5 separate regions of the Homo sapiens genome follow, and regions 1, 2, 3 and 4 are each linked to region 5. The links come from fine-mapping of genetic effects on gene expression. A gene starts in region 5. Each other region holds a variant in brackets. All regions are shown on one strand. Distances are from middle to middle. Region 1 overlaps STKLD1 (serine/threonine kinase like domain containing 1). Region 2 overlaps SURF6 (surfeit 6). Region 3 holds the start of CFAP77 (cilia and flagella associated protein 77). Region 4 has its middle 8.6 kb from the start of OBP2B. Region 5 holds the start of SURF1 (SURF1 cytochrome c oxidase assembly factor).

What was found.
Region 1: its variant is fine-mapped to the expression of SURF1 in lymphoblastoid cells (GTEx, PIP above 0.99).
Region 2: its variant is fine-mapped to the expression of SURF1 in whole blood (TOPMed, PIP 0.99).
Region 3: its variant is fine-mapped to the expression of SURF1 in uterus (GTEx, PIP 0.96).
Region 4: its variant is fine-mapped to the expression of SURF1 in atrial appendage (GTEx, PIP 0.97).

Annotation. Positions count from the first base shown.
Region 1 is chr9:133,382,271-133,388,614 of GRCh38, forward strand. It overlaps STKLD1 (serine/threonine kinase like domain containing 1), which reads left to right. Exons shown (of 18, transcript NM_153710.5): 3 at 1,586-1,630; 4 at 3,347-3,421; 5 at 5,177-5,278. Among named protein-coding and RNA genes, the nearest start is that of STKLD1, 9.1 kb to the left of the region's middle. The variant C/T (reference allele first, on the strand shown) is at 2,971.
Region 2 is chr9:133,324,837-133,331,180 of GRCh38, forward strand. It overlaps SURF6 (surfeit 6), which reads right to left. Exons shown (of 5, transcript NM_006753.6): 5 at 3,940-6,344. Among named protein-coding and RNA genes, the nearest start is that of SURF6, 8.2 kb to the right of the region's middle. The variant C/T (reference allele first, on the strand shown) is at 3,302.
Region 3 is chr9:132,408,479-132,414,822 of GRCh38, forward strand. CFAP77 (cilia and flagella associated protein 77) reads left to right here and starts at 1,733. Exons shown (of 6, transcript NM_001282957.2): 1 at 1,733-1,988. The coding sequence starts at 1,794. LOC105376304 (a long non-coding RNA gene) reads left to right here and starts at 2,163. Exons shown (of 3, transcript XR_930405.2): 1 at 2,163-3,253; 2 at 4,751-4,837. RefSeq lists a silencer at 2,841-2,890. The variant G/A (reference allele first, on the strand shown) is at 3,846.
Region 4 is chr9:133,197,523-133,203,866 of GRCh38, forward strand. No RefSeq gene overlaps it. Among named protein-coding and RNA genes, the nearest start is that of OBP2B, 8.6 kb to the right of the region's middle. RefSeq lists an enhancer at 2,494-3,215. The variant A/G (reference allele first, on the strand shown) is at 2,970.
Region 5 is chr9:133,354,043-133,359,624 of GRCh38, forward strand. It overlaps SURF1 (SURF1 cytochrome c oxidase assembly factor), which reads right to left and starts at 2,445. Exons shown (of 9, transcript NM_003172.4): 1 at 2,358-2,445; 2 at 2,227-2,278; 3 at 782-915; 4 at 617-699. The coding sequence starts at 2,411. It overlaps SURF2 (surfeit 2), which reads left to right and starts at 2,508. Exons shown (of 6, transcript NM_017503.5): 1 at 2,508-2,628; 2 at 2,872-3,026; 3 at 3,669-3,772. The coding sequence starts at 2,551. RefSeq lists silencers at 2,247-2,366, 2,607-2,676.

The DNA.
Region 1 (6,344 bases), 29 kb after region 5:
TCCTTTACTGAGTTCTTGGAGCGTATATTATGCTGTCCTAAACTTATCTTTGCAAAAGGAGCAAAGATGTTCTCATTGCTCTAAGTATTTTTAGATCTCTGCCTTAGGAATATCTTCCATTTGTGCCATATGGTGGGGGCAGGAATGGTGGGAGCCTGTCACTCCTGCTAAATAGTGATGATGGTGGTGATGATGGAGGTGGCAATGATGGTGGTAGTGGTGGTGATGGTGGTGGCAGTGATGATGGTGATGATGATGGTGATGATAATGGTGATGGTGGTGATGGTGTGATGATGGTGATGGTGGTCATGGTGATGGTGTGATGATGGTGATGGTGGTCATGGTGATTATGGTCGTGGTGATGATGTGATGATGGTGGTGGTGGTGTGATGGTGATGATAGTAATGGTGATGGTGGTGATGGTGATGATAATAGTGGGGATGGTGACAGTGGTGTTGATGGTGTGATGGTGGTAATGATGATGGTAATGATGGTGATGATGGTGGTGATGATGGTAATGATGGTGATGATAGTGACGATGGTGACAGTGGCATTGATGGTTTGATGGTGGTGATGGTGTGATGATGGTGGTGGTGTGATGGTGATGGTGGTAATGATGGTGATGATGTTGGTGATGGTGGTGATGATGGGGATAATAGTGGTGGTGGTGACAGTGGTGTTGATGGTGTGATGGTGGTGATGGTGTGATGATGATGGTGGTCGTGGTGTGATGGTGATGGTGGTAATGATGGTGATGAGGTTGGTGATGATGGGGATAATAGTGGTGATGGTGACGGTGGTGTTGATGGTGTGATGGTGGTAATGATAGTGGTGGTGGTGGTGATGGTGTGATGATGGTTAAGGTGGTGATGGTAATGATTTTGATGATGGTGATGATTGTGTGATGATGGTGATGATGGTGTGATGGTGATTTTGGTAATGATGGTGGTGATGGTGATGATAGTGATGATGGTGATGGTGGTGGTGTTGGAGTGATGGTGGTAATGGTGGTGGTGTGATGATGTGATGGTGGTAATGGTGGTGGTGTGATGATGGTGGTGATGGTGATGGTGATGATGGTAATGATGGTGATGGCAGTGATGATGGTAATGATGGTAATGATGGTGATGATATATGATGATGATGGTAATGATGGTGATGATAGTGGTGATGGTGGTGGTGATGGAGTGATGGTGGTAATGGTGGTGGTGTGATGGTGATGATGGTGGTGATGGTGATGATGGTGATGATGGCAGTGATGGTGATGGTGGTGATGAAGGTGGTAATGATGATGTTAATGATGGTGATGATAGTGTTGATGGTGGTGGTGATGGAGTGATGGTGGTAATGGTAGTGGTGGTGGTGTGATGATGGTGATGATGGCAGTGATGGTGATGATGGTGATGGTGATGATGGTGACAGTGATGGTGGTGTTGGTTGTGGTTGTGGTAATGATGGTGATGGTTGTGGTGGAGGTGGTGGCTGTGCAGATGATGGTAATGGTCGTTGTGGTGGTGGTGATGGCGGTGATAACGGAGATGATTTGCTACATGTTTATTAAGCTCATGCTCTTGTGCCCTTGCAGGTGGAATGCATGGATGACCATTACGCCAGTCAGGCCCTGGAGGAGGTAACTCTCAGGGTAGTTTTCCCTCTGGAAGAGCTCAATGGAGCATACACAGACTGTGTTCTGTACCTTCTTGTTGAGTGCCTGGATGAAGAGAAGGCTGGAGGGAGGGATAGAGCATCAGCACCAGTTTTGCCTCAGCTGTGAAGCCAGCAGCCCCAGGTCATGAAGGGAGTCCATGCCCCAAACACTCACTGCTAAATGCAGGTGCCGACAACTTAGAACATATGTTCCCAGAGAACATAAAATTTAAATATTGGGCTGGGCACGGTGGCTCACATTTGTAATCCCACCACTTTGGGAGGCCGAGGCGGGTGGATCACTTGAGGTCAGGAGTTCAAGACCAGCCTAGCCAACATGGGGAAACCCTGTCTCAACCAAAAATACAAAAAAATTAGCTGGGCATGGTGGTGGGCACCTGTAATCCCAGCTACTTCGAGAGGTTGAGGCGGGAGAATCACTTGAACCTGGGAGGCGGAGATTGCAATGAGCCGAGATTGCACCATTGCATTCCACCCTGGGTGACAGAGCAAAACTTTGTCTCAAAAATAAATAAATATTGGCCGGGTCCCTAGGTTAATCTACCAATAACTTCTTTAAATATTTTTTCTTCAATATAAAATTATTAATTACAGCAGAAAATTTTAAAAATACAGAATTGGGTTTTCTTTTGTTTTTACCTTTTTTTTTTTTTCTTTAATAGCAATGGGGTCTCACCATTTTGCCCAGGCTAGTCTGAATTTCTGGGCTCAAGCAATCGTCCCACCTCGGCCTCCAAAGTGCTGGGGTACAGGCATGTACCACCACACCCATACCAGAACTGTTTAACAAAACAAATATAAATTACCCTTAATTCTACCATTGAGAGCTGCCCAGCAGTAACATACTCGTTTACAATAATAGCGATAACAGCTGCACTTCGGTTTGATTGGCAAAGCCTCCGAGTAGCCTTTCTTTGTGTTTCTTGAATTTCCCACGAGCTTGAAGGTGTCCCCTCTTATCTCATGGTCACTTGTTTGTCTTCTGGAATTGCTGGCTCTGGAGCTTGGCCAGCAAACATTATTGGGTGTATAGTGTGACCGAAGCACAGTGGTGGGCCCAGGCTACTCGGTAACAAATGGGAAGAAAGAGCATGGGGCCTGCCCAGAGCCGCACGCCGCCGTGGCTTTTCACGTTGCCGATTCCCATCCACAGCCCACTAGGTAGGCCACCTGCTTTCATGCCCAACCTTCCACCCCAAGCAGTTGTCTGTCTGGCTCCATGTCTCTAAGGCAGCCCTATCTGCTCCTGTTTGGGCATGTTTCAAAGCACTTTCCGCCAGGGCAGGGGCACCGGGACCTCTC[C/T]GTGTGCCCACCTCCCGGTGTCTGCACCACCTCCTCCAGCCAGCCCTGGCTGTGGCTGATCCCCACCTTCCTGGCACTGCCTGCCACAGCTCACTCACCCCCCATGGTATCCCTGTGAGGCAGATTCCACTAGGACCCCCATTTTCAGATGACTATATGAGGCCCAGTCACCCAGCACAGCCAGCTCATGCTGGAGACAGGACCCACATCGGACTGCCTGGCTCCCAACCACCGTGCAGCTTCCCTGAGCCCACTCCCTGGCCCAGCTCAGAGCCCGAGGCTTGCATGTTTGTTGGGATGTGTGACAGAGAAGCCCGAGCTGAGAAAGGCGTGGAGAGGCACTGACTTCTCCGTTTCCTCTGCTCTATCCTGGCAGCTGATGCCACTGCTGAAGCTGCGGCACGCCCACATCTCTGTGTACCAGGAGCTGTTCATCACGTGGAATGGGGAGGTGGGTCAGAGCTGACACCTACGGGCTCAGCCGCCACGCAGTGGGCTGCAGGACCAAGCAGACTGAGCCCAGAGCACGCCCACCCCCCACTGTCAGAATAGCTCGTGTGGCAATGGCAGTGACTGTAAACGTGGCCACCCCTGACCTAACACTCACTGGGGCCAGGTACCATGCTGGGGGCTTTCGGTGCATAGTCTCATAGGAGCCCCAAAAACCTCATCGTCAGGAGAGTTTTTTTTTTTTTTGGACAAAGTCTCGCTCTTGTCCCCCAGGCTGGAGTGTAATGGTGTGATCTTGGCTCACTGCAACCTCTGCCTCCCGGGTTCAAGAGATTTTCTTGCCTCAGCCTCCCGAGTAGCCAGGATTACAGGCGCGTGCCATGATGCCCGGCTAATTTTTGTATTTTTAGTAGAGACGGGGTTTCACCATGTTGGCTGGGCTGGTGTTGAACTCCTGACCTTAAGTGATCCGCCCGCCTCGGCCTCCCAAAGTGCTGGGATTAGAGGCGTGAGCCACCACGCCTGACCAGGAGGGGTTCTTAACCCATTTGACAGAAGAAGAAACAGAGGCTAACAGAAACAAGTTGCTCCAGGTTACCCAGCTAGTACGTGGCCAAGCCAGAGGGCCAGGCCAGATGGGCCTGACTCCCGGGCTCTGCACGCAGCCAACGAGCTTGTCCTGGTGAGCCTGTGCCTCTGATGACAGAGTTTTTACTTTCATGGAAGGAGCTAGTTGACCTCCGTCTCCACAGCCACCCGACACCGGTGCCGTCCTGGGCCTGTGCGCCCCTTACTCCTGCAGCCCCTGTGCAGCTTACTGACCAGCACCACATCCGTCATCACGTGCCAGGAGGGCTGCAGGGCAGGAAGTACTGTCCCTGTGCTCCTGATGGGGCCTAGGGCTCCGGTTCAGGAGCTCTCCAAGGCCACACAGCTAGTAAACAGCTGACTGGGGACGGAGACTCAGGTCCAGCAGCCGGGTCCTGTAGGCTGGATGACTTCTTGTCTTTACAAGGAGCCAGGAGCTTTCCAGTCACTTCTGATGGGACTGAGGCAGACAGCGGGAGGCTGAGCAGGCACAAGGGGTGCTGGAGGTAAAGAGAGGCTGAGAAGCCTTCTGCCAGGCGCCAGCCTGCATGAGATGTCCACACTGGTGTTCCCACCTGGGGCCAACAATCCCGGGTCCGAGCAGGAAAGGCCCCTCACACGCTCCCTCTGCTCCAGCGGGTCTTGGGGAGGGGACCTCACTGCATGCACTCCCAAAGATTTTCTGAGCACCCCCTAATGCTCTCAAGGAGGGTGCAGAGAAGCCAAGAGGACATTTCCCTATGGGAGGGAGCACAGAATTGGGGGCCCTGACCTGGTCTGCTGGGGCTCTGGCCAGGGCAGGGTCCTCAGAGGAAATGGGTCTGAGCTGAGCCCTAAAGGGTGCATAGTTATCCCTATGAAGGGGGTGGGTAGTGGTCCAAGCAGAGGGGTCCATGTGTGCAGTGGCCAGGGGACAAGTGCAGCTTTTGGGAAAGTCCAAGTAGCTTGGTGTGGATGGAGTGTGGAGTGGAGGTGGAGCCTGGGAATGGGGAGAGGAGAGAGAGGAAGCTGAAGGTGGGGCAGGAGGGGCTTGTAGCCCCCTCCAGTGGGCAGTGCTCCCACGGCCACTGCAAATGGCAGCTGAGCGCAGGGAGGCCCTGGAGCAGGTGAGCCTGCAGAAGCACCGGGGCCTGGGCGTCCTTTGGCTAAGGGCCTCCTGTCCCAGCAGATCTCTTCTCTGTACCTCTGCCTGGTGATGGAGTTCAATGAGCTCAGCTTCCAGGAGGTCATTGAGGATAAGAGGAAGGCAAAGAAAATCATTGACTCTGAGGTGAGGTCCTTTGGGGCACCAGGCCTGGGGGCCACCTAGACCTGTGACACAGGCCCTGCGGTGCAGGGCAAAGTAACAGCGGGAGGGCAGGCACCATGGAGTCCAGCCTTGTTTTTTTCTTAAATGTGTGCCTCGAGGCATTGCACTCTAGGTAATGTGTGCAGATCTTAAGTGCACAGTTTGATGCACTCACACAACTTCCACCCAGATCAAGACAGAAGGCGTTCCTAACACTAGAAGGTTCCCAGTCGGTGACCATGATTCCAGATTGTTCTGCCGGTCCCTGAAGTTCCTGTAAATGGACTCGTCCGGCATGCTGCCACTCCTGTCTGGTCTCCTTCCCTCAGCCTGCTGTTGTGAGCCCCGCGGTGCTGCTGCATGCACCAGCAAATCATGTGTTCATTGCTTGCTGCCACTCTGCTGCCTGATTGCGCTGCAGGCTGTTTACCTAGTCTCATTTGGGCTGCTTCCAGTTTGGGGCTATTGTGAATAAGGCTGCTATGAGCATTGCTGGAAGACACTCACTTTTCTGGGATGAATACCTAGGAGTGGAATTATTGGGTCGTAGAGTACATGTGTGTAGCTTCAGTGGATGCTCCAAACAGATTTCCGACTTGGTTTGGTTGGCCCCATGTTTACTCTCACAAGTTGTGAGCATTCCCGATCCACATGGAGGCCAGCACTTCATTGTGTCAGTCTTGTTGTTGTTGTTGTTGTTGAGATGGAGTCTCACTCTGTCGCCCAGGCTGGAGTGCAGTGGCACGACCTTGGCTCACTGCAACCTTCGCCTCCCTGTTCAAGCGATTCTCCTGCCTCAGCCTCCCAAGTAGCTGGGACTACAGGTGCCCACCACCACACCCACTAATTTTTGTATTATTAATAGAGACAAGGTTTTGCTATGTTGCCCAGGCTGGTCTCGAACTCCTGACCTCAAGTGATCCACCCGCCTCGGCCTCCCAGAGTGCTGGGATTACAGATGTGAGCCGCCGCGCCTAGCCAGTTCACTTTCTTAATGATGTCTTTTGATGATGGAAAGTCCTAACTGTAATGGAGTTCGCTTTCCCAA
Region 2 (6,344 bases), 29 kb before region 5:
TTAACCCCAAGCACCACAGAACGTGACCTTGTTTGGAAATGGTGTCACTGCAAATGTTATTAGTTAAGATGAGGTCACTAAGGTGGGCTCTAATCCAATGTGACTGGTGTCCTTATTATAAGAAGAGGCAATCAGGACCCACAGACAGGCACAGGGGGAAGATGAGAGGATGCTGTTTGCAGGCCAAGGACAGCACCCAGGAACAGCCTTCACTCAGGGTCCTCAGAAGAAACCAACCCTGCTGATGTCTGGACTGGACCCCTGCCCTCCAGAGCTGTGAACAATGAATTCCTCTCACCTAAGCTGCTCTGCGGTGCTTTGTTAATGGCAGCCCTAGCAAACTCATACACAAAGGTAACAGAATGTGTAAAAAAACAATTTTACAAAGGCAGCTATAACAGTATGAGACAAGAAAGCAGAGAGAGGATGGAAAATAGAATCGCCCTGCTGATTCCTTCATATTATAGTTGGATTCTAAAGACATCACTTAATGCTGACAAACTGAGAAGTTTAGCATATTAAAGAGGACAGAGGCAAATACTAAGAAATATAATAGTATTCATTCAAAAAATGGGTGGGCCGGGCATGGTGGCTCACACCTGTAATCCCAGCACTTTGGGAGGCCGAGGCAGGTGGATCACCTGAGGTCAGGAGTTCGAGACCAGCCTGGCCAACATGGTGAAATCCATCTCTACTAAAAATACAAAAATTAGCCAGGCTTGGTGGCGCGCATCTGTAATCCCAGCTACTAGGGAGGCTGGAGCAGGAGAATCGCCTGAACCTGGGAGGTAGAGGTTGCAGTGAGCTGAGATGGCGCCATTCCACTCCAGCCTGGGTGACAGAGCGAGGCCTGTCTCAAAAAAAAAAACAAAAAAAACCATGGGTGGTAGAAAAGAGAGAGAAGGGAGAGAGGGGAAAGGTTTACAAATTATTTCATAGTAGGGAACTATGAGAACTCTTTTAAAGGTTGAGGGGACTAAAGATATTATTTAAGGGTATGAACAGTAAGTAGCAACTAGACCCAAAAAAAATCAAGCCTTCCTAAAAACCAGAAGAGCTACATTTTTTAAGAGCAAATGCAGATTAAGTAATGACTATATGTAGTAAATGTGAAATAAAACAATTTCAAAAAGAACAAAGTTGGAAGACTCATGCTACCCGATTTCAACACTTACTATAGAGCTGCAGTGATTAAGACGGTGTGGCGCTGGCGAAAGGTTCAGGGGAACAGAACACACAGTTTAGAAATAGACCTACACAGATTTATGGCCAATTGATTTCAGATGAAGGTACAAGGGCAATTCTACGAAGACAGTCTTTTCAGCAACTGGTCCTGGAACACTGGACATCTTTATGCAAAAACGAACCTTCAAAATGGTTATGCCATTTTATTTATTTATTTATTTACTATTTTTTGAGATGGAGTCTTGCTCTGTCTTCCAGGCTGGAGTGCAGTGGCGACAGCTCGGCTCACTGCAACCTCCGTTTCCCAGGTTCAAGTGATTCTCCTGTCTCAGCCTCCCAAGTAGCTGGGATTACAGGCACCTGCCACCACGCCCGGCTAATTTTTATATTTTTAGTAGAGATGGATTTCACCATCTTGGTCGGGCTGGTCTTGAACTCCTGAGCTCAAGTGATCCACCTGCCTCGGCCTCCCAAAGTGCTGGGATTACAGGAGTGAGGCACCACGCCCGGCCACAAGTCCTTTATTATACTGTATGTTTTACAAATATTTTCTCCCACTGTGAGCCTTTTTATCTGTTTTCCTAATTTTTAATTTTTGATGAAGTGCAATAATTGACAGAATGAATAGATAGAAAATTGGCACCAGGTGCAGTGGCTCACGCCTGTAATCCCAGCACTTTGGGAGGCCGAGGAAGGCAGATCACCTGAGGTCGGGAGTTCGAGACCAGCCTGACCAACATGGAGAAACCCCATCTCTATTAAAAATACAAAATTAGCCGGGCATGGTGGCGCATGCCTGTAATCTCAGCTACTCAGGAGGCTGACAGGAGAACTGCTTGAACCCAGGAGACAGAGGTTGCAGTGAGCCAAGACCGCGCCATTGCACTCCAGCCTGGGCAACAAGAGCAAAACTCTGTCTCAAGAAAAAAAAAAGAAAGAAAGAAAGAAAAAAGAAAAGAAAATTGGCAAGGATACAGAACTTGAACTCCACTGGACCTGACATTAAAACACTTGACTCAACAAGAGCAGAAAACATTCTTCTCGAGCACACACAGAACATTTACCAGGAGAGACCACAGTCTGGGCTATGAAACAAACCCTGTTAACTTCAAAAAGATTCAAGTGGTTTTTTGTTGTTTTTTGATACACGGTCTCACTCTGTTGCCCAGGCTGGAGTGCAGTGGCAGGAACATGGCTCACTGCAGCCTCAACCTCCTGGGCTCAAGTGATCCTCCCACCTCAGCTTTCTGAGTAGCTGGGACTATAGGCATAGGCGTGGGCAACCGCCCCAGGGTGATTTTTTAAATTTTTTTGTAGAGACAGGGTCTCGCTGCATTGCCCAGGCTGACCTCAATCTCCTGGGCTCAAATGATCCTCCTGCCTCAGCCTCCCAGTATCGGGATTACAGGTGTGAGCCACCACGCCCCAGCCAAGGACTCAAGTTATACAAAGTATGTTCTCTGACCACAATGAAATTCAACTAGAAATCAGTAACAGAAAGATCTCTGGTAAATTCCCAAATATTTGGAAACTAAATGACATACCTTTAAATAACTCATTAGCCAAAGAATAAATCAAAGGGAAATTAGCAAGTATTTTGAACTGAATGAAAACACAACATATGAAAATTCGTCAGGTATCACAAAAGCAGACTGAACTTTTTAGACCTTACAAATGCATGACTGTCCCCCTTGCCTCTGATCTTCTGCCTGGGGTCTGCCTTTCCCCAATCTTTGTTCACTATACTGAATCCTACATGACACAGTCAACCTATGAAGAAATCCAGAGATAGACTCTCTAAAATAAATGGATTTGGGAATAGCAGCTTATCTGGAATACTGCAACCGTTGAGGATGGTCTTGCAGTGAGTCCTGTTATTGGTCTGTTTGTAGAAATGTCTTGTGGTAAGTCCTGTTGCAGGAATGTGTGCGTGAGGGCTGCTTCATCACCTCCAACTGTTTTAGTTTGACATAAGTGACTCCATTTTGGTACCGGCAACGTTCACAACTTTCCATGTGACTTCAGCACCCTGCACCCCGATCCTTTCCCTGGCCACTTTGCAGGACCACTACCTATGAGACTATGGGTTCCTTGAGAGCTAGGGCTGGGTCTCATT[C/T]GCTCCTGAAACTTTCACCCAGCAGAGTGATGGCCCACGCCATGCATGACATGCGTTGCTCAATGACTGCATCCACTCAGCCAGTATGCCAGTCCCCACTGAGCCTCACTCTCAACCTCCCTGGCTGGCATAGGTTCCTTGTGCAGACATCCAGTGGCAGTAAAATATTGCTGGGTTCTCAGCTTCCCCCACCTGCAGCCCTCACTGGCCCACCCAGTTGTCCTGTCTCTGCTCAGGACGAGACCCCCCCCCGCCTCTTCAGTCTCTGTAGCCAGGTGATGGCAGTGGCCTTTTCCAGACCCTCACTGGCCCCTTAGTTCACTATGATGACTTCACCTCTTGGGAACCCATGGGGATGTCTTTCCCTCCAATACATCTACATTTGCCTGACCCAGAATGTAGTTTCAAGATGGGTCCATGCCTGGCTCCAAATCCCCTTATCAGAGTAAGGAAATACCTTAATTCCTAGTTTGCTAAAAACTCGTTATAAATGGCTGTCGCGTCATTTACTGTGTTCCTGTTCTGCAACCATTGAGATGGTCACGTGGGTTTTGCTCCTTTAATCTATTGATATGAATTACACTCTTGATTCTCTGGCATTGAAACTGCTTTGCAATTCTGAATTAAATCCAGTGTGGCACTTTGCTAAACTTGGTTTATTATTGTCTAAAATCTTGACATTGGTATTTGTAGGGACCAGCCCCACAGGGTCCGTGGGTCTCTCCCTCCCTGTGTGCAGCAATGAGAGAGTGTAGAAATACACACACAAGACAAAGAGATAAAAGAAAAGGCAGCTGGGCCCGGGAGACCACTACTACCAATGCTCGGAGACCGGTAGTGGCCCCGAATGTCTGGCTGCATTGTTATTTATTGGATACAAAGCAAAAGGGGCAGGGTAAAGAGTGTGAGTCATCTCCAATGATAGGTAAGGTCACGTGGATCACGTGTCCACTGGACAGGGTGCCCTTCCCTGCCTGGCAGCCGAGGCAGAGAGAGAGAGGAGACAGAGAGAAAGACAGCTTATGCCATTACTTCTGCATATCAGAGACTTTTAGTACTTTCACTAATTTACTACTGCTATCTAGAAGGCAGAGCCAGGTGTACAGGATGGAACATGAAGGCGGACTAGGAGCGTGACCACTGAAGCACAGCATCACAGGGAGACGGTTAGGCCTCCAGATAACTGCGGGCAGGCCTGCCGGATGTCAGGCCCTCCACAAGAGGTGGAAGAGCAGAGTCTTCTCTAAACTCCTCCAGGGAAAGGGACACTCCCTTTCCCGGTCTGCTAAGTAGCGGGTGTTGTTCCTTGATACTTTTTGCTACTGCTAGACCATGGTCCACCTGGCAACGGGCGTCTTCCCAGACGCTGGCGTCACCGCTAGACCAAGGAGCCCTCTGGTGGCCCTGTCCGGGCATAACAGAAGGCTCGCACTCTTGTCTTCTGGTCACACCTATGTCCCCTCAGCTCCTATCTCTGTATGGCCTGGTTTTTCCTAGGCTATGATTATAGAGCGAGGATTATTATAATATTGGAATAAAAGGTAATTGCTACAAACTAATGATTAATGATATTCATATGTAATCATATCTAAGATCTATATCTGCTGTAACTATTCTTGTTTTATATTTTATTATACTGGAACAGCTCGTGTCCTCTGTCTCTTGCCTCGGCGCCTGGGTGGCTTGCCGCCCACAGGTATTTGGTAACTTCCCTTTCTCTTACCTAGTTTTGGTATCAAAGCTAAGTTCACGAATGAAGTGTTCTCTCAATTGATTCTGTTAGAATTTGTCTACGTCTGGAATTACCTGTTCTCTATATCGTGGAACTTCCCTGTAAAACCGTCTAGGGGAACATTCTTAACTACTGACTCAATTTCATCAGTGATTACAACTCAGGCTTTCTATTACTTTTAGTCAGTTTTGGAGATTTTTCTTCCATTTACTTTGAGTTGTTCCAACTTAAGCTGCATGCTTATTTTTCTTTAGCTTTAAAAATACAGACATACAGCGTATGTGTGTATAAATGGCACTATTTATCTGTAGATGCACATACATTTAGGGGCTATGTTTTTTTGTGCTGCTTTAGCTCTGTTCCACAAATCTTAAATTTTTTCTTTTTGAGACAGTCTTGCTCTGTCACCCAGGCTGGAGTGCAGCGGCTCGATCTTGGCTCACTGCAGCCTCTACCTCCTGGGTTCAAGTGATTCTCCCGCCTCAGCCTCCCAAGCAGCTGGGACTACAGGTTTGCACCACCACACCCAGCTAATTTTTTATTTTTAATAGAGATGGGGTTTTATCATGTTGTCCAGGCTAGCCTTGAACTCCTGATCTCAAGTGATCCACCCGCCTCCCAAAGAGCTGGGATTGACAGCATGAGCCACCATGCCAGGCCCTGTTCCACAAATTTTAATACGTAGCATTTTCATTATCCTTTAGTCCCAAATATTTCTAATAGCCATTCGGAATTCTTTAACTCATAGGTAATTTATAAGTGTGTTTTAAAAATTCCAAATATGAAATGCCACTGCACTCCAGCCTGAGTGACAGAGCAAGACTCTATCTAAAAAACAAAAAAAAATAGCTCAAATTTTTTTTAATGACATTGGGATACGGTCAGATAACGACACTGATTCCTTGAAATATCTTAAGACTTCTTTTCTGGACAAAGTAGGTGGTCAGTTTCCATCCATGTTCCATATATGCATGGAAAGAGTATGTATTCTTTTCAGATACTGTTGTGTCTGTCTCTCAGCTCAAGCTCATGCTCACCTCACATCCTATCTTTCACAGGGCTTTTTCATCAGTTGCCTCTGTCTGGTAACAGTCACACCAGCTCCTGTTCAGTTACAGTCTTTGTCTCATAACCGGAGAGTTTCATCAAAAGAATTTTATTTACAGCTTTATCATCCATATGCCACTAAAATTCACCTGTTTTCTTTCAACCTGCACTCATTTTGATTGCCTGGAACTCTGGATTTAATTCTTCCATCCCACTTTGTATCTTGCATTCACTTCACTCTCTCTCCAGCTTTTATTCTTTCTT
Region 3 (6,344 bases), 950 kb before region 5:
GTATGTGCATGCTCACAGAGAGAGAGCAAGAAAATGTGACCAGTGCTGGGGACGGGTGAATCTGTTAGTCCAAACTGCACCATTTTGTAAGCCCCCTGCCATTTTGCAGACCTTGCTTAAAGTGAAACATTCCACGGGGGTTCAGGCAGTGAGAAACAGCCTGCCTCTTATCATATTCTGCTGGGAGAAAGTGACAGGAACATCACGTTCCACCAGAACAAGGGCCAAACTGCCTCATCATGGGAATACCTTATCAACATCTTCCCGGGCAGCAGGCCATACCCACCGGGCCCCTCCCCGCCCAGGCCTATAATTTCTCCAGCCTGTAAGCAGCGGTAGGCACTGGCATTAAGCTGGTCTCCCACCTCTGTAGGTCTCATGCTGGACATAAAGCCTGAATTTGCTGTAGAGCCGCCACTCTTTCTTTAACCCTCCCCTTCCCTTCAAAATCTAACCGAATCTAGGTGAAGCCTATATGTATTTTCATTGTATTCTTCTTTCGACTTTCAACTTTTCTGTAGGTTTGAACTTTTTCACCAAGTTGTGGGTGGGTGGGTAAGGGGATTTTTAAAAATGCAGCATCTGGCCTGGTGAGGTGGCTCATGTCATTATCAGAGCAAGACTCCGTCTCTTAAAAAAAAAAAAAAAAGGAGAGCCTCAGATGCCATTTCCAGATATTCTGATTTAGTGAGTCTGGGGTGAGTCCTGTGAATCTTCGTTTTTCTTTTTTTGGCACATGGTCTCATTCTGTCATCCAGACTGGAATGTAGTTGCCGAAACACGGCTCATTGTAGTCTCAACCTCCTCAAGTGATCCTCCTGCCTCAGCCTCCCCCATAGCTGGGACCACAGGTGTGTGCCAGCACACCTGGGTAATTTTTTTAATTTTTGGTAGAGATGAGACCTCACCATGTTGCCCATGCTGGTCTCAAACTCCTGGGCTCAGGCCATCCTCCCTCCTAGGCTTCCCAAAGCAATGGGATTACATGGGTGAGCAGCCAAGCCCAGCCCAAATCTGTATTTTTCAATTTCCCTTCATTCTGTTGCTTAAATTTGGGAACCATTGATGTAATCCAACTCTAGCGTTTCCTTGTCACCCATCTCACAGGAAAAAAAGAAAAAAAGCCCTTAGGATCCAAGAGGGTGACTTGCCCGAGTCCTCCCAGTGGGTCAGCATCAGCATCAGGCTTGGAATGCATTTAGTGCTCTGTCTCAGGTGTGTGTGTGGCGCAAAGAGCAGAGGTGGGGAGGGGTTGTGAGTGGAATGGGGGTGAGCAGAGGATGGAGTCTTCGACTTGGAAGACAAATGTAAATGACCCTCTATGAGCCACGCCGCTTTGAACGCAACCCACTGGAGATTCTCGGTTCTCCTGTATCGATTCAGGAAAACTCCAAACAAGTCCACACTGGTAGCCACCAAGAGTTTCTTGAAAGAAAAGTACAAGCCGAGCCGGGCTCTGTTGGCGTCCCGTCGCCAAGGAGACGGGCCGTTGCATTCGTCCTCCAGGGGTGGTCTTGGTTTTCTTTCCTCTCCCAGTCTGCAACGCGGGGCCCAGGAGACGCCCTGAGGATCCCGCGGGGCTCCTGCATTGCTCCGGGGCTCTTTGCGATGAGGGGCCGGCGCGAGCGGGGCGCGCCTGGCTCCGGAGGGGTCCTGGCATCTGAGTTTCCCCCTCAGGATCCCGGTGGTGCGGCCCGGGCCGCCCGGCAGGCCCTTCGGAGCTCCAGGCTGTGCCCGACGTGGGGAAGCGCGCCCAAACCAGCCCGCGGGCCGGCTCCCCGGCGACCTCAAGGATGCCAGAGGCCAGGAGCTCCGGCCCGGACCTCACGCGATGGAGGAAGCAGCAGCAGCCTGTGCGCCGCACGGTCAGCCAGGTCTGCCCGCCCCCGCGGCGGCCCCTGACCGTGGCGGACATCCGTTCCGGCATGGAGAACGAGCGGCTGGGGGTCGTGCGGGACTCCATGTTTCAGAACCCTCTCATCGTCAAGGTGAGCACCCCACGCCCACCGCGCTTTCGCTGTCGCCGGCTCCGGGCACCTGCGCCGCCGGGGGTCCCCACCCGCAGCGCCCTGGCCCCGCGGCCCGGGGTCCGAGCGCAGCGTGGGAAGCTCCAGCTCTGGTCCAGACAGGCCTGGACCCCCATGCAGGTCGCGTCGCCTCTCTCAGCCTCGGTTTCCCCATCCTCACAGTGGGATGATAATGGCACCACTAAAGGGACTGATTGGGAAGATTGAATAGGGTAATTTCTGCGGGACCTCGGGACAGCGCCTGACATGGGGTAAGGCTGCAATGGGTGCTGCTGTGGTTTCCCACAGAGTGAACCCACAGGGTGACAGATAGGTCGCACACGCCCAGTCTAAGTCGTGGCTGCCAGCCCTCCCAGGGTAAAGGCCGCCTCTCCGGTTCCGCTGCACGCCTGGGGTACGTCTATGCAGCGGTGGCTCCGTGTCTGTCCTGGAAGCATCACGTCGAATGTTCATTTCCGTTCGATCATACTAATTTCTTACCCAAATTACAACCCTAAGAGAAAAAAAGCATAATCTTTGGCCTAGGAGGCTCCGCAGACAAGAATGAGGGAGCTGCGGTTTCGGGCTGGATCACTTTCCCTTCCATTACACTTCCCTCCTCCCCACCTTTAGCCTCGCTTCCCGCTGATGGGAAACCAACACTGCTGTGGCGGCCACACCTTCCCGGGGGCCACTGGAGAAGTCAGGCTGAGGCTTGGGGGTCAGGGAGCAAGCCTCGAGGCGAATTTATCTTGCGCCGCTGGAGGGCAGTGCGCCTTTAAAAATGCGCCCCGCGTCCCAGGTGCGGGAGTGGAAGGCGCAGGTGGTAACCGTGGATTCAACAACAATTATTTGTGTGACCGCCAGGCGCTGAGTAGAGCCCAGAGGTGGTGGTGGCGGTTTGTTTTTGTTTTGGGGAAAAGGGAACCCGTGCTAGAATTAACTGAGTTAATTGGCTCCTGGCAAAACATTGACTCCCTCCTCTTGCCTTCCCTAAACTCGGTCCTGAGAGGAGGAAGGATACTGCCTAGGCGCAGGCTGCACCTGGGGGAGGCTGGCTTCCCACACTCGTGCCTTTCCATCGAATAGGCTCCTTTCTTAGGCCTCTCAAAGTGGAACAAGGTCCTTCACTTACTTCTACGTGAGAAGAGCCACTCTGAGTGGACAGGCAGGACAGGCAGGTGGGGCCCATTATTCTTGGATGAAGGAGAGAATCACGTCCGCCACCTCTGACTACCTGCATTAAGGTTAGGTCGTTGCTTTTGTTCAAGTAGTTAGTAGTGAGCCAACTTCTTCCTACTGAAGTGTAAAGTGAGGGCGTATGGAGTTATTCTCCATGGTGAGTTAGTGTGTGGTGCCCACGCTGAGCAATATGTACACACACACACACACACACACACACACACATACATGCATATGCATTTGTGTATGCACCCATATAACATACCGTTTACATCTATCATATATACATGTATGCATATGTATAATATACATGTACATATGTGTAAAATGTATGTACATATATGTAAATTTCCCCCTTCTTTTCCTTTTTCCTTTTGCTTCCCCCGCCCCACCCAGCTATATCGAGGACAACATTTGGCCTCTGGATGGCACTAGCTAAACAGCTTCTAGGACCAATTCAATCCCTGATTTCTGAACCCAAGCTTAGGGTCGGAAAATGTACAGGAGGTGACTCACCCACGACTGGGGTTCTGTCTTCAGGGCACGAGATGCAGAGCAGGTCTGCCCTGGCCCCTGGTGACCATGCTGGAGCAGCAGGGACCCACGTCCAGGCTCGTGCTCTCTGATGATGGAGCCTGGGGTTCTCTTCTTCCACCA[G/A]GGACAGCCAGGGGGCAGCCTTTACCTCTGGCTTTCCTTCGTGGGTTCTTCGGGGTCTTTAAGGTACTTTCTGGAGCAGTTAAGATGACGTCCACTTTTCAGTATTTACCATATATAATATTAGAATATCTTATAACTTTAGAGGTCAAAACCTGACATAAATAAAAGTTGGCAGAGAAATTGACCGCAAAAGGGAACCTTGACTGTTATCTTTTCTGGACCCTTTTTGCAAATGAGCACACTGAAGCCACCTCTGTTGTTTTTTTTGGGTTTTTTTGTTTGTTTGTTTTGTGCTTTTTTTTTTTTGTTTGTTTGTTTGTTTTGCTCAAGGTTTTGGCAGAGATTGGGTTTGCAGCTTCGTTTGCTAACTCCCAGCCCAGCATTATTTTTACCACTTCAAACAGCTTCCTATATTAGTTTTTTTAAAAAAATTATGAAACAACTTTGGTGTTTTTGACTAAAGAAAAAGAGAAAATGGAAAATATGTGAGGTTGTGGAGCTTTAAGATTTTTTTCTTTTCATGTTATGGAAATTTCTACTGAGCTTGGCTTGTGGATTTCTTCATTGTGGCATGTCAGTTTCACCATCATAGATTTTCAGCTCCCCGTAGTAGTGTGTGCCTTTCCGCTATGTATGGTAGAGGTTGGGAGTGCACTCTGCCGTGGTGTCTTTAGGAGGGTGATTAGAACTAAAGTATATTTTGGTTTTGTCTAAGTCTGAACCTGAAGGTGTGCATTGGAAGACTATAGCACCTTAGAAATAGGCATTTATTCTACCATATTGGGGGGTTGTTTCGTGGGTTGTTTTCTCCAATGAATAGGATCAGCATTTTTTTTCATTTAAAATGTAGAAATACTGACTGAACAAACTCAACAGTGTTATTTCACATCCATAAAATTTACCAGGATGTATACACATCAGTTATTCAAGAACACGTCTGCAAGTTGCCACCATAACCAAGTGAAAAGTGAAAAACTGAGACATCCAAGCAGGTATTTTATCTACAGATGCTCAACAACCATTTGCCTCATTTAAAACCAAGTCAACTGGTTATTTAATAGGAGTGATTGAATCAAGTCGGTGTTTTACATGGCCACAAAAGATGTAAATATTTTCCATTAGAAAGGGTTTCAACTCTAGTATAGACAGTGATGTGCAGTTAGCCCGTTTTCCTTCAAATGTGACTCTCTGGAAAGAATAAAATTAAATAGAGAAAGAACCAAGCTTCTCCCTGCTTGGTTCTCATTTCCCCAGAATTCTGTGACTCCACATAGAATCCTGCTACAATAGCCTTCAAGACTCCTTCACAAAACCTGTCAGGGTTGCACCTTTCCTGCCATCGGAACTCAGCTGATAACCTGTCAATACAATTATAGGGAGAGACTGCTTGGTTTGCTCCCCTGACAGCCTTGGATCTTCTGTCTCCCTGGAGAGGCTGCCTATGTACGGGGGTGGAATTTATGGAATCGAGCACCCTTAGAAAGTGTAAAAGATCGTAGCACCCGATTTTTTCATAATTTATTATTGACTTTGTTTTTCTGTGAGGTTTTATGTAACCAATAAGAAGTGCATGCATTTTTAAAATAGAGTCATAGAGCAGACACGGCATTTGGGGCTGGAAGACATCTTACAGACATCTAGTCCACCTCCTTTTTTGAGGAGATCAAGGCCCAGCGAGGGGAACAGACTCATCCGAGGTGCTATCCTCACCTGGTGGCAGAATTGGGATGAGACTAAGGTCTCCTGGCTTCCAGCCCCACGTTCTTTTGGCCACAACATATGATTAATTAACCAATGACAATCCAGATTGGTGACATCATGTATAGCAGGCAGTCAAAAAGTGTTCACAGATGAATCAGATCCCAATATCATTTCATTCAATGTTCCTTCCAAAGTGAGCTCTACTGATTTCTTAGGACTTCTTGACGGCCAAGAAATATTTGTTGAAGGTTTGTCAAGTGCCCAGTGCCATCCTGAGCTTTCCTGGGGGCATAGAAACAAGTTTAGAATTCAGCGTTGCTGAATTTCACAGGAGTTAACCATTTACTATTTAGCTGGGGAGATGGGATACATGCACACGTTTATAACTGTGCAGATAGAGATGAATGCGAAGAGGCAGGCAGCTTAGCACAGCACCTGCTGTAAGGAAAGCTCTTGGGAAATGTTAGCTCTTATTCACACACACACACACACACACACACACACACACACACACACGCAGGTATGCACAAATAAGACAGGCATTGTGATGGGTCCCCACCCCCGTAAGTTTTCAAGTGAGCTGCATTGCCCGGAAGAGTTCAGATTTGCAGGAAGGGAGTTCTGGGCAGGTCTCAGGGACCTGGAACCAGACCTTGAAAAGTGAAAAAGCAGAGTTGGGAAAGTCATTCAGCTCCATTCCGCCCTCCTCGGCTCCTAAATGCTTGTAGGTTTTCACCCCAACTTGAGTCCTAGTTTACAAGACCCAGTGCTGCCGCTGGGATCATTATCATTATCATC
Region 4 (6,344 bases), 160 kb before region 5:
GAACCCTCAAGGCGGAGGTTGCAGTGAACAGAGATCGCGCCACTGCACTCCAGCTTGGGCGACAGGACGAGACTCTGTTTAAAAAAAAAAAAATCTCTGCACATGCTAAAATCCACAGAACTGTCCATGAAAAAAACCACTTTTTTTCTGTGTGAATTTCAAAATAAAATAATTAAAAAAATCAGAAAGAGACTCACGTTAAAAAACAAAGAATGAAAAGGAAAATATATTTTCCAAAAGAAGTTGCTGTGAAATATGAGGAGAAACATCAAATGTGAACACACAAAGATGCTTGGTGCTGATAACAGGAATGATCATCCTTAGGGAAAAGAAAATCACCACCATTGAGCTGGCCACACCAAAACAATTGTAAATTCTAAATATATGGAGCAAAAACTAATTGAATTTAAGGAGAACATGAGAAATCAACAACTGAAGCGGGATTATTTAACGGAGATATTCAGAAACAAATGGATGAAGTAGAGAAAAATATTTGAGAGTGTAAGATGTAAGTAACATGATCAGTTAAGTTCATCTAATAGGTGTTTGTGGAAATATGCAACTACCAAAACCCACAAATTAAGTTCAAGCACATGAGAAATGTTTGCAAAAACTTTTCAGCCATGTATCAGAAAGGAACTATCAACAGATTCCCATAGACAGTGTATACTCTTAGGATTACAAAGGAACTTATGAACTACTGAGAAATGAATAACAGTGACAGCAATCTCTATCAACATTTGTTGGATGCAGCTAAAGGTGTCCTTTGTTGCACTCAGAAAATTACAGACATAAGCATTAGAAACATAAAACATGGAAATATGGCCGAGCGCGGTGGCTCACGCCTGTAATCTCAGCACTTTGGGAGGTCGAGGCAGGTGGATCACTTCAGGCCAGGAGTTCAAGACCAGCCTGGCTAACATGGTGAAATCCTGCCTCTACTAAAAAAAAAAAAATACAAAAATTAGCCGGGCATGGTGGTGGGCACCTGTAATCCCAGCTACTCAGGAGGCTGACGCAGGAGAATCTCTTGAACCCAGGAAGCAGAGGTTGCCGTGAGCCAAGATCATGTCACTGCACTCCAGCCTGGGGCGACAGAGCAAGACCCTGTCTCAAAAAAAAAAAAAAAAAAAAAAAAAAAAAAGAAACATATAACATACAAATAAATGAACCAAGTGTTCAAATCAATATTAAAAATAATAACAGAGCAGGGCAGGAGCAGTGGCTCATGCCTGTAATCCCAGCACTTTGGGAGGCTGAGGCGGGTGGATCACTTGAGGTCAGGAGTTCAAGACCAGCCTGGCCAACATGGTGAAACTCCGTCTCTACTAAAAATACAAAAATTAGGCCTGGTGCAGTGGCTCACGCCTGTAATCCCAAGCACTTTGGGAGGCCGAGGCAGGCGGATCACAAGGTCAGGAGTTCCAGACCAGCCTGGTCAACATGGTGAAACCCCATCTCTACTTAAAATACAAAATAAATAAATAAATAAATAAATAAATAAGCCGGGCGTGGTGGTACTTAAAATACAAAATAAATAAATAAATAAATAAGCCGGGCGTGGTGGCGGGCACCTGTAATTCCGGTTACTCAGGAGGCTGAGGCAGGAGAATCGCTTGAACCTGGGAGGCGGAGGTTGCAGTGAGCGAGATGGCCCCACTGTATTCCAGCCCGGGCGACAGTGTGAGACTCTGTCTCAAAAAAAAAAACCCACGAAAACAAAAATTAGCCAAGCGTGGTGGCCCTCTCCTGTAGTCCCAGCTACTTGGGAGGCTGAGGGAGGAGAATCACTTGAACCCGGGAGGCGGAGGTTGCAGTGAGCTGAGATGGCGCACCGCACTCCAGCCTGGGGGACAGAGTGAGACTCCGTCTCAATAAACAAACGAACAAATAACAGAGCAAAACCAAAATGCCAAGGGAACGTGAGACAGGAGTGCGAGCTGGGAGTCGGCACACGGAGAGGCAGAGACACTCCTCGGAGGCAGAAGCTGGTTCCTTATAGAGATGGAAAGAAAGAAATGGACTCTGGGGAGACTGGAGAAGAACAGAAACACAGGAGGCAGAAATAAATACTGCGGATGGAAGCAGAGACAAAACAAAATGTAAGCTGCTCCAAATCGGCGGCGGAGCGAGTTCTGGAAGAGCGGCGGTGTGGGAACCTCCGGTGCCTTCCTCTCCCAGCTGCAGCTGCGTTCCCAGGCAGGCCTCCCGGGAGCCAGGGACGGAGGCCCAGGACTCCGCCAGGGGTGGGTCCGTTCCCCTTCTTGGAGGGAGTGTGACCCACAGGCCCCACGGAAAGGCAGTGCCACTCCCGTGACATTCCACAAGGCCCCGCTGGCCGGCCCCTGGCCTGCCCCCAGAGAACTGCTCGCAGGCAATGATGCCCTGCAGCCTGAGACCTGGGCACCCCGGCCTTTGCCCCAAGGAGGCTGGGGATAGAAGGGCTTCCTCCAGGATTCTCTGCAGGAGATGAGCAAAACGTCCGCAGAGCCAGTGACTGCGGGACCCACGACAATCTCAGGTCACGCCTGCCGGGAGAAGCAGCACCTGGACCTGAGCCCGGGGACGGGCAAAGGAACGCAGCTCGTGAGTGGCCCAGAGAGCGGGAACCAGAGCGCCCCGACGGCAGCGGAAGCCACCGCGGGCGCCAAACCAGTAACGCGCCCCTTGAGGACAGGAGGCCACGGCGCAAAAGCAGACTGGGCTCGGAAACACGTGCTTTACAAATGGGGAAATGAGTGAGACGATGCAGGAGAGACCGCAACCAGACGTAAAAGGTGAAGACCACCGCGAAGAGGAAGCTCTCAGCCAGAGCTGAGTGAGAGCCCGCGGGCGGGAGGGGGCCGGGCGCGCGGGAGCCTTCCCTGCAAACCCCGGGCGTTCCAGGAGCAGGGAGGCACACGGATGGAGGACAGGAGACCAAGAATGGCATAAAATTTCTCCGAGCAGAAGGAACGCCGCAGAGTGTG[A/G]GCGTGAGATTGCTAGCGCTCACAAATTCAGGCAAGGCAGGTGAGGAGAGACACAGGCCTGCGCATCCTGGAAAGCTCTTGGACTTAAAAGATGAAAATAAATGATCCTGGAAAGATCTCGAAAGATCAAGAATATAAAGCGCTTTTGTTTGTTTGTTTTTAATAAAACGAACCCCTAAACGCACACAGAAAGGAAGAACAAGCATCCATGGATTGTTCGGAGAAAAAGGTTGATATCCAAGAATGCGGTACCAGGCCAGGAACGGAAGAAAGTGAAGTGACCTGGGGGGAGGCGAGCGCTGATCCGAGGAGAGGAGCCAATGAGAGGCACTCACCAGGCAAGCGGGTGGGCGGGGGCCTGGCGCTGAGCACAGACAAGTCCAAGGGAAGATGCATAGGAGCTGATCGTGCAGAGATGGCAGCAAGTGGCAACGGAATCCCCCTGCATTGACAATAAACCTCCAGGAATCCCCCTGCATTGAGAGAATAAACCTCCCGGCTCTGGTTCTGTTCCGTGTCTGTTAGCGGGGTTTAGGGGTGAGTTAGGGAGAGGGCACTGCCACCAGCCCTCGGATATATTTCTCCTGCTGTTCACTATGTGTAATAGACAAACACCAACAAGAAGAGAAGAGGCCAGGCACAGTCGGTGGCTCATGACTGGAATTCAGGCACTTTGGGAGGCCAAGGTAGGAGGATCATCTGAGCCTAGGAGTTTGAGACCAGCCTGAGCAACGTTGGGAGTTTCTGTCTCTAAGAAAAAAAAAAATTACCTGGGCATAGTGGTGCACACCTGTAGTGGCAGCTACTCAGGAGGCTGAGCTACTCAGGATTGCCTGAGCCTGAGATATCAAGGCTACAGTGAGCTGTGATTGTACTACTGCACTCCAGCCTAGGCAACAGAGAAGGACAGTGTCTCATAAAAGAAAAAAAAAGAGGAGAAAAGCTTCCCAGACCTGCCCACACCATGGTGTCCAACAGGTGGCTGGGACCCCATGTCCTCCGGTCAGCTCTCACCAGGGCCTCATGGGACCTTCCTGCTGGGGGCTGATCTGAAATGCCCTGCTTCTTCAGACGGCTGAGGGTTTCTGCCCACCCAACCTTTGGCAATGCCAGGCGAGACAGGCACCTGCAGCCCCACCGTCACTGGCATCCTCTGGGCAGGTGCTCAGCGTTCCTTAGGGCCCAGGAGCAAGCCAGACGCCGCCTTTACTTTTGCAGGCAAAATAGAACTTTTTAAACTTCTGCCCATCTCTCTTTTGCACATACAGTATGATAGTCTTGCTAACCTACTGCCAGATGAGTGAATCTGCCTATCACCAAGCAACAGGTGCACTGTCCCATGAGAGGGATGGGGGTGGACGTACAGAACTCCAGGGTTCTCTGGGCACCCTCTGGTGCTTCCAGGCCTGTGAATTGGCACAGCAGGACCACAGACCTCCAAGGTGCCCACCTGGGGGCTCAGAACCCTGGCGGGGAAGGTCAGTGCTATCCCACCGGAGAAGAGACCTAGTCTAGCTGAGCCCCTGGCCAGCGGCAAGGAGGAAAGGATGAACATCAGCCACGCCTGGCACTGACTGCCACAGCCAGAGCCTCGCCCAGCCCAAGAATGTTTCTGTTCTAAGACTTTTTTCTTTTTTGTATTTTAGAAATTATCACAGGCAAATGTCACCTTGAAGACCCGGTGGCAGCAAAGTGTGAGCTCAGTGTGGGGCATGAGTGTTCTGAAGCTGCCAGGGGTGGACTGCAGTGGGTGCCATGGGGGCTGTCATAGCCCTTGGTTCTTGCTATTGCAGGCCACGCTGGCCACGTTTCCACCGCAGTGTCCTCAGCTCCTCTCTGGAGGGGTCGTCTTTCCACCTAAGCCGCCCTGCCCTGCAGCAGCGGGAAGTGCCAGGAATAAGTGCCCCATGGAAGCATCCCCATCCCGTGACCGGCTGGAGCTGGTCTAAAACATGGCAGCGCCAGGGACTGAGCCCCAGTTGGTCGCAAGTGGTCACCTTGATGCTGGACCCTTCACCAGTGGCCTTCCCTGCTAACGTCACCTCCCCAACCCTACTTAGGAGGGTCTCCTGGGACCACCTCCTAAGTAAACCACTTGAGCTTGCATCTGCCTCATCTGCTTCTGGGGGACTCACACTAGAAAAACAAAATTAATATTTTTTTGTTATATGGAGTGGTGTGATTTGAAATCCTTCTATGGATAATGAATGCTTGCTTATGTCTTTAAAAAAAATTTTTTTTTTTGAGACAGAGTTTTGCTATGTTGCCCAGGCTGGTCTCAAACTCCTAGGCTCAAGTGATCCTCCCATGTCAGCATCCTGAGGAGCTGGGACTACAGGTGCGCGCCACCACGCCCGACTCCAGCATCTTTGTTCTCTTAATATTGAGTCCAGACATGGAGTTAGGCAACCGCAGGCATGCAGATTACACTCCCCAGCAAGAAGGCTCATCATTGACACACATGCAGACTTAGGCTGTACCAGGCATGTATACCAGGGGGGTGCATTGTGAGTAGGTAGGTGTGTGTGCGGGTGGGAGACTGTGTGTATGTGTGAGAGAGAGCATGTGGCAGTGTGTGTGTAGGTGTGTGTGCATGTGTGAGAGCATGTATAGGTGTGTGTAGGGGTGTGTGTGTGCGCACATATGTGTGTTCATGTGTGAGATTGTGTGTAGATGTGTGCCCGTTCCTCACAGCAACCCTGCTGGTGAGTGCTCCTGTGGTCCTCTCTTTACGAACAAAGAAACAGGTTAAGCACTTTCCGGAAGGCTGGTGACCCACGAGCCCTGTGTCACACTTCTCAGTCTGCCTGGGGCCCTAGCTCTCAGCCTGGACACTTGGCCCCTGGTGAACAAGTCATGTCGGAGAGAACCCGTCTGGTGCGCCATCTCCAGGATACTTGTGTCCCTTTGTACATATATTTAAAAATTCATTTTGAAAGAACAAAAAAATCTCCACTGCCCTCCTTCACATCTGCGATTTCTTGATTTTCAAACACTGAAAGGCTCGTTTTGCTCCTGGAGAGATTCTGCTCGGTGCCTCTGCCATGCTTGGGTTGGGAGTGAAAGTTTTCCTGACTTATTTGGGATACTGTCCTCAAATATTTCAGATGTTGGGTGTCTGCGAGGGTCCCATGGTTATGAGCCATGGGAAGAGGCTTCGTGTGACTCAGTGATTGGAGAGTTTGTGGGTGGAATTGGGGGGTGCTGAGCTTGGAAGGGGAAGCTGCATGGGGCCAGGGCTCTCGGGAGCAGAAATGGATGATGGTTGGGGCCCACGTCCGCCAGGACAGAGCCTCCCACCTCGAGGGCTGCATTCCCAGGGCTACAGGTCCCTGGTCCACCCATCATGAGGTGGCCAGGACATTGGATGGATAG
Region 5 (5,582 bases):
GAAAGGCAAAGGGCGTGCTCTTCAAAGGGGAACTTTGATGCCATGTGGGAATGTGGATCTGCACTGCCAGAGTCCAACTTTACAAGAGAGGCTAAAAATCTGGACTCCTCAATGAATATTTTATGTGAAATTTTAAAAAATATGTGGGCCAAAACCCCATCTGCAAGCCAAATCTGGCATACTGTTTGCTACCCTGAATGGAAAATGTGGCTGAATATACCTATCTCTGTAGGGCATATTCTAGGGAGAGAGCAGACAAATCATTCAGGGCACTTTTTCAAACGACCACCCTCACGGTGAGACCTACATTATCTGTCCTCAGCCACAGGGCCTTGGGCCCTGTGGAGGATAAGTTTACTATACCTGAAAAAAGGGTGACACCCAGGACTCAAAATAAGACTTTCCTCCATATGTCAGGAGGCGGTCTCAGGTAGCTTCACAAGGGCAGTCAGGTGTCAACAGCAAGCCCAACAGATGACTGATAATGAGAGCTCCCACCTGAGGTCAAGGCAGTGACTAAAAGTCCCACCAAAAGGGGCAAGCTGGCCAGCAGAAGCCAGGGCTCTGCTGTTGAACTCAAGTAAAACAGGCCCTAGGGGGGCAGCCATGCACTCACTCGGCTGGCAGAGGGACAGGCTCAGCCAGAACTCTGGACTCCAACTCTGCAATCAGGTTCAGCTTCCACTTCCGACGCTGGACCTACAGTGACAGAGCATAAGGCCAAGCAGATGGCAGCAAGGTCAAGGGCCCAGAGTTACGCACACCAGATGCCGGTCTTTACCTGCCATGTCCCCAAGCCAAAGGCAGTCACAGGGATGAGGAGCAGGACCCACTGAAGAAAGGAGTCATCTTCCGCTTTTGTGGCAGATGCTTCTGCTGCAGAACTGCCACATCTGCTTGGCCTCCAGGCCACCCCTGGAGAGTTTCACAACACTGACATGGAGCCAGAAGCCCTCGAACACAGACCTGGAGCAGCCCGTTCCAAGACAGACTCCAGTACTGCCAATCAAAACCTGCTGCCTAGAGCCAACTAGCAGCACCTGTATCCAGCCCAGCTCCTAACCCGGTGCCCAGAACAAGGCACACACAGTACGTCTGCCAAGTGAGTAAGTGGGATCTAGGGCTCAGTGCCGGTTTGACCACCAACCACGACCCTGAGTAACTCATGCCTTTTTACTCAAGAATCTAGATGTATTCCACTGCACTAAGATGCACCATTCATCCATTCAAAATGCATTTAATAAGCAGCTACAGTTGGCCGGGCACGGTGGCTCACGCCTGTAATCCCAGCACTTTGGGAGGCCAAGGCGGGCGGATCACGAGATCAGGAGTTCGAGACCAGCCTGACCAACATGCAGAAACCCCATCTCTACAAAAAAATGCAAAAATTAGCTGAGCACGATGGTGCTTCTGTAATCCCAGCTACTCGGGAGGCTGAGGCAGGAGAATCGCTTGAACCTGGGAGGAGGTGGTTGCTGTAAGCCGAGATTGCGCCACTGCACTCCAGCCTGGGCAACAAGAGCGAAACTGTCTCAAAAAATAAAAAATAAGCAGCTACAGTTACTAAGTAGCTTAGTCAGGCACTAGTGGTTGTTGTGTTATGTAGAAAAATATATCAATTCAGTAATGGCTCACAGAGCTCTCTTAACAGCTTTCCATTTTTACAACTCATCGTAAATGTAAAGAGGGAAGAATGTACACAGAAAGTGCCTTTAAGCTCTCAGAGGATGAGTTCCATCCGCTGAAAAGCACCAGGGGCCTTGCGGATACTATTTTTTTTTTTTTTTTTATAAAAAGGCAGGCCTGGGGCAGGCTTGCACAGCACTCTACACACGGCAAAACAGCCCTGTGCTGCACACTGAGAGGAACACGTAAGCCGCGGTGGTTAGATACGCTTTACTTTCAGAGCCCTGGGCTTTCAGCCTGGGCTGGCCACCCATTAGCTGGATGGGACGTTCGGAAGTAACTCTCGAGCCTTCTCTGTAACAGGGGAACGACCAAGGAGCTACCTCTCGCGTTGTGAGGACAAAGCGCTCGCTACATGCCCGGCACACGACCACAATTCCACTGAAAGCATTTTAATACGGAACTTGTCACTCCCAGGGAGCCTCCGCTCAGCCGGCAGTTGGTTCATTTCAATCCCCACGACAACCCTTCAAAGTGCAGGGCAGACAGCAGGTGGCTCTGCCCAGGCGCCTGGATCACAGCCCGGCCTGCAGCCCTCACCTGGGCGCGGGGAGACCCTGAGGACGCTCCTCCAGGCGGCGCTGGCCGGGGCCTGCGGACACGGACGGGCGGGCTGAGCTCCGGGACCCCTCCCCGCGCCCCGCACCCCGCACCCCGCACCCGGCGCTCACCCGTCCCAGCCCCGCCGCCCGCAGCCCCAGCTGCAACGCAGCCACCGCCGCCATCGCACCCGGCCCCGCGGGCGCTTCCGGGACGCAGGAAGCATCTGCATCCGGGGCGCCGCTGAGTCCCGCCCAGAGCCCCGCCCCCGGCTCCAGGTTCTGCGAGCGGCTTCCGCCGGGCTGCTCCGCGGGCGCGTCGGCCATGAGCGAGTTGCCGGGCGACGTGCGGGCGTTTCTGCGGGAGCACCCGAGCCTGCGGCTCCAGACGGACGCCCGCAAGGTTCGCAGCGCGGGAGGGGAACGGAGTGGCGGAGAAGGGCGCAGTTGGGATGAGGGGCTGAGGGGAGGGCAGGGGAGAGGAGAGGGCAGGGGAGAGGGGAGAGGGGAGAGCAGGAGAGAGGGGAGGGCAGGGGAGAGGGCGCGGCGGGATCAGGGGAGGAGAGGGAAGGGGGCGCGGCAGGAGGGGGCACCAGGGAGCGGAGCCCTGGCCCTCCTGACGTCCTGCCCGCCCACGCGTCCGCAGGTGAGGTGCATCCTGACAGGTCACGAGCTGCCCTGCCGCCTGCCGGAGCTCCAGGTCTACACCCGCGGCAAAAAGTACCAGCGGCTGGTCCGCGCCTCCCCGGCCTTCGACTATGCAGAGTTCGAGCCGCACATCGTGCCCAGCACCAAGAACCCGTAGGTGGTCCGCGGCGGCGCGGGGAGGCCCAGGGCAATTAGGACAGCCCCTCCGCTGGACTCCGCCAGTGCTGCAGCCCCTACTCTTTCAGAGTTGGGAGCCCTGGGACCCAGGTGGGCGCCCGGGTGCTGGAATCACCTGCGGTCCCAGCGGCGAGGCCTCTTGGTGAGCTCGTTTGCTCACCTGAGGTTTGTCCTGTGGGGTGTGGCTGCTTCCCAGATGAGTAGAGGCTTGTGATTTGTCACCTGAGGTTGTGAACAGCGTTGGGTTCTTCCCTTAACCCCAGAAGGGGTCTTTGATTTAGCTGGGAGCTAGGCTTTGTAATAATCGTCAAAACAGAGATAGGATGTTTCCATTCATTGAGCCCTTGCTCCAGGTGGAGCCATCCTCTTGCATGAACTCATCCTGGAGCAGTCAGTGAGGCTGCCATGCGTGCTTTTCCGGTAAACATTAAGAGGCTGCAGTCGGCCTGGGTCAGACGGTTCCCCACCCAGCTTCAGAGTGGAATTGCTCCGGGAGCCTTTAAAAGCCCGATGTCCAAGCCGCATGGTAGACTGTCCAGGGATGAGTCCAAGACACAGCCACCAGTCTGAATCCTTGCTGTGAACTGTCCCTACAAATTTGGTCTCTCTGCTCTGTAGGCACCAGTTGTTCTGCAAACTCACCCTGCGGCACATCAACAAGTGCCCAGAACACGTGCTGAGGCACACCCAGGGCCGGCGGTACCAGCGAGCTCTGTGTAAATGTAAGTCCCAGTGGACCCCCATCAGTGCATCGCCATCTGAGTGCATGCCCGCCTTGCCCCAGATGGAGCGTGCTTGAAGGCAGGTCGTCCTTCAGCGATCCGTGTTGATGCATCAGGCCTGTTTTTTGGCACAGTGAAGAGAGGGATGATGGCCCCTGACCCCACAGCTTTTAGTGCAGGCAGGCACAGAGCCAGAAGCAGGCTCGGGAGTGAGTGAGTGTGCGTGGCAATGCGAGGTGTGAAAGAAACTGGGCGAGGGATGTGGGGTGGGCTTGCGGAGACAGGAGGGCTGGGGAGACTCGCTGAGGGATTCGCTCGAGGCTGAGGCTGGAGGGATGTGGTGGCAGTGGGGTCGGGGGAACAGCACCCCAGGGAGAAGCCAGGGTCCATGGAAGTCTGAGGCAAAAATGTGTTGGCTGAGGTAGGCTCCAAAGGACTGGCTGGGCTAGTGTGCACAGCCCGGATGACCCAGAGACCAGGCCAGGAGCACTGCAGTGGGTGTGTGGAGAGGGTTGGGTGGGGGCTGCATGGACAGTGTGCATGGTTGAGAAGGGAGGACTCCTTGACTGCGGTCATCCAGGAAAAGACGGTGGGTTTTGGGGGGAGAATTCAGAGTCCCTTTGAAGGTTTTAAGCTTGAGCTGTATTAGGAAAGGTGTGTATTAGGGAAGTATCGGGCTTTTGAAACAGGGACACCCGTGCTGGATGAAGGAGATGGTTGCACCGTGGATCTGGGTGAGCACCCGGCGAGAGTTTAGAGAAGGGAGAGAGGCCTGGTCCTGAGCCCCAGGAAGAGGCTGGAAGTCCTCCCGTGGTACTGAAGGGAAGATGAGGACAGAAAAATGATAGATTTGATAACACAGAGGCCCCTGGCAACCTTGGTGAGGCACCTGAAGCTTGGCAGGGACACCTGGCTAGAGTGGAGCGTAGGCTGCAGCCCATGAGGGCAGTGTCCGGCCTTAGGCAGGTGCTGGGTCACCAGAAAGCCTTTCTGGAGTCCAGCTAAGGAGGGAAATGGACAGAGGCTGGAGCGGACAGATTCAGGTTGGTTTGCGGATGGGAAGATGCGTCTACGGGCTTCTGATGAGTGCGGAGAGGCAGTCCAGCCCTCCCGAAGCATGAGTGTGGATTGAGAAGGCAGGACCAGGGTTTCTCAAGTAGAAGGCGGGCACCTTGCAGAGGCCTTGCAGGCACAAGGGCTGCCAGCCTGAGGCTTGGACTTTTTCCAGCCAGTGTGTTAGCTGCTCAGGGGTGGGCAGGAAGGCTCTAAGTGCAGGGGGCCACGGGGTTCCCATGAAGAATGGTTATGATGGTGGACTGTGGAGCTGAGATGGGACTGGGGCGCCGAGGTCACTGCAAGGCAGTGGTCCAGGGAAGTCCAAACGTGGCTGTAAGGGGGCTCTGCCTTCACGTTCTGGTGGTGACAAGGCTGCTGCATGGCCATGGGGGTGGGTGGCAGAGACAAGGAGGGAAACAGCCCTGGAGATGGGCCGCCACATCAATGGCCAGGGCCCAGCAGGGCTCATGCAGCCCATGAGGGATGATGATGGTAGCTGCGCTGGGCTGGAGGGCAAGCCCCAGCAGACCCTCCAATATACAAGGGGACAACGGTGGTGACTCCAGTGAGGTCTTTCCATGGAAGCCTTGTCCCAACTCCCTTCTCACCCACTAAGGGGCAGCAAAGGCCAGGCAGCCAACCTCCACTGAGCCCCGCCCTCCGGGACGGGGTCTCCCATGTGCTGAGGGAGGACTTCAGGCTGCTGGGGAGAGGGTGGCATCACTGCCAGCCCGAGTTGCCTTTGAGAGGCCAT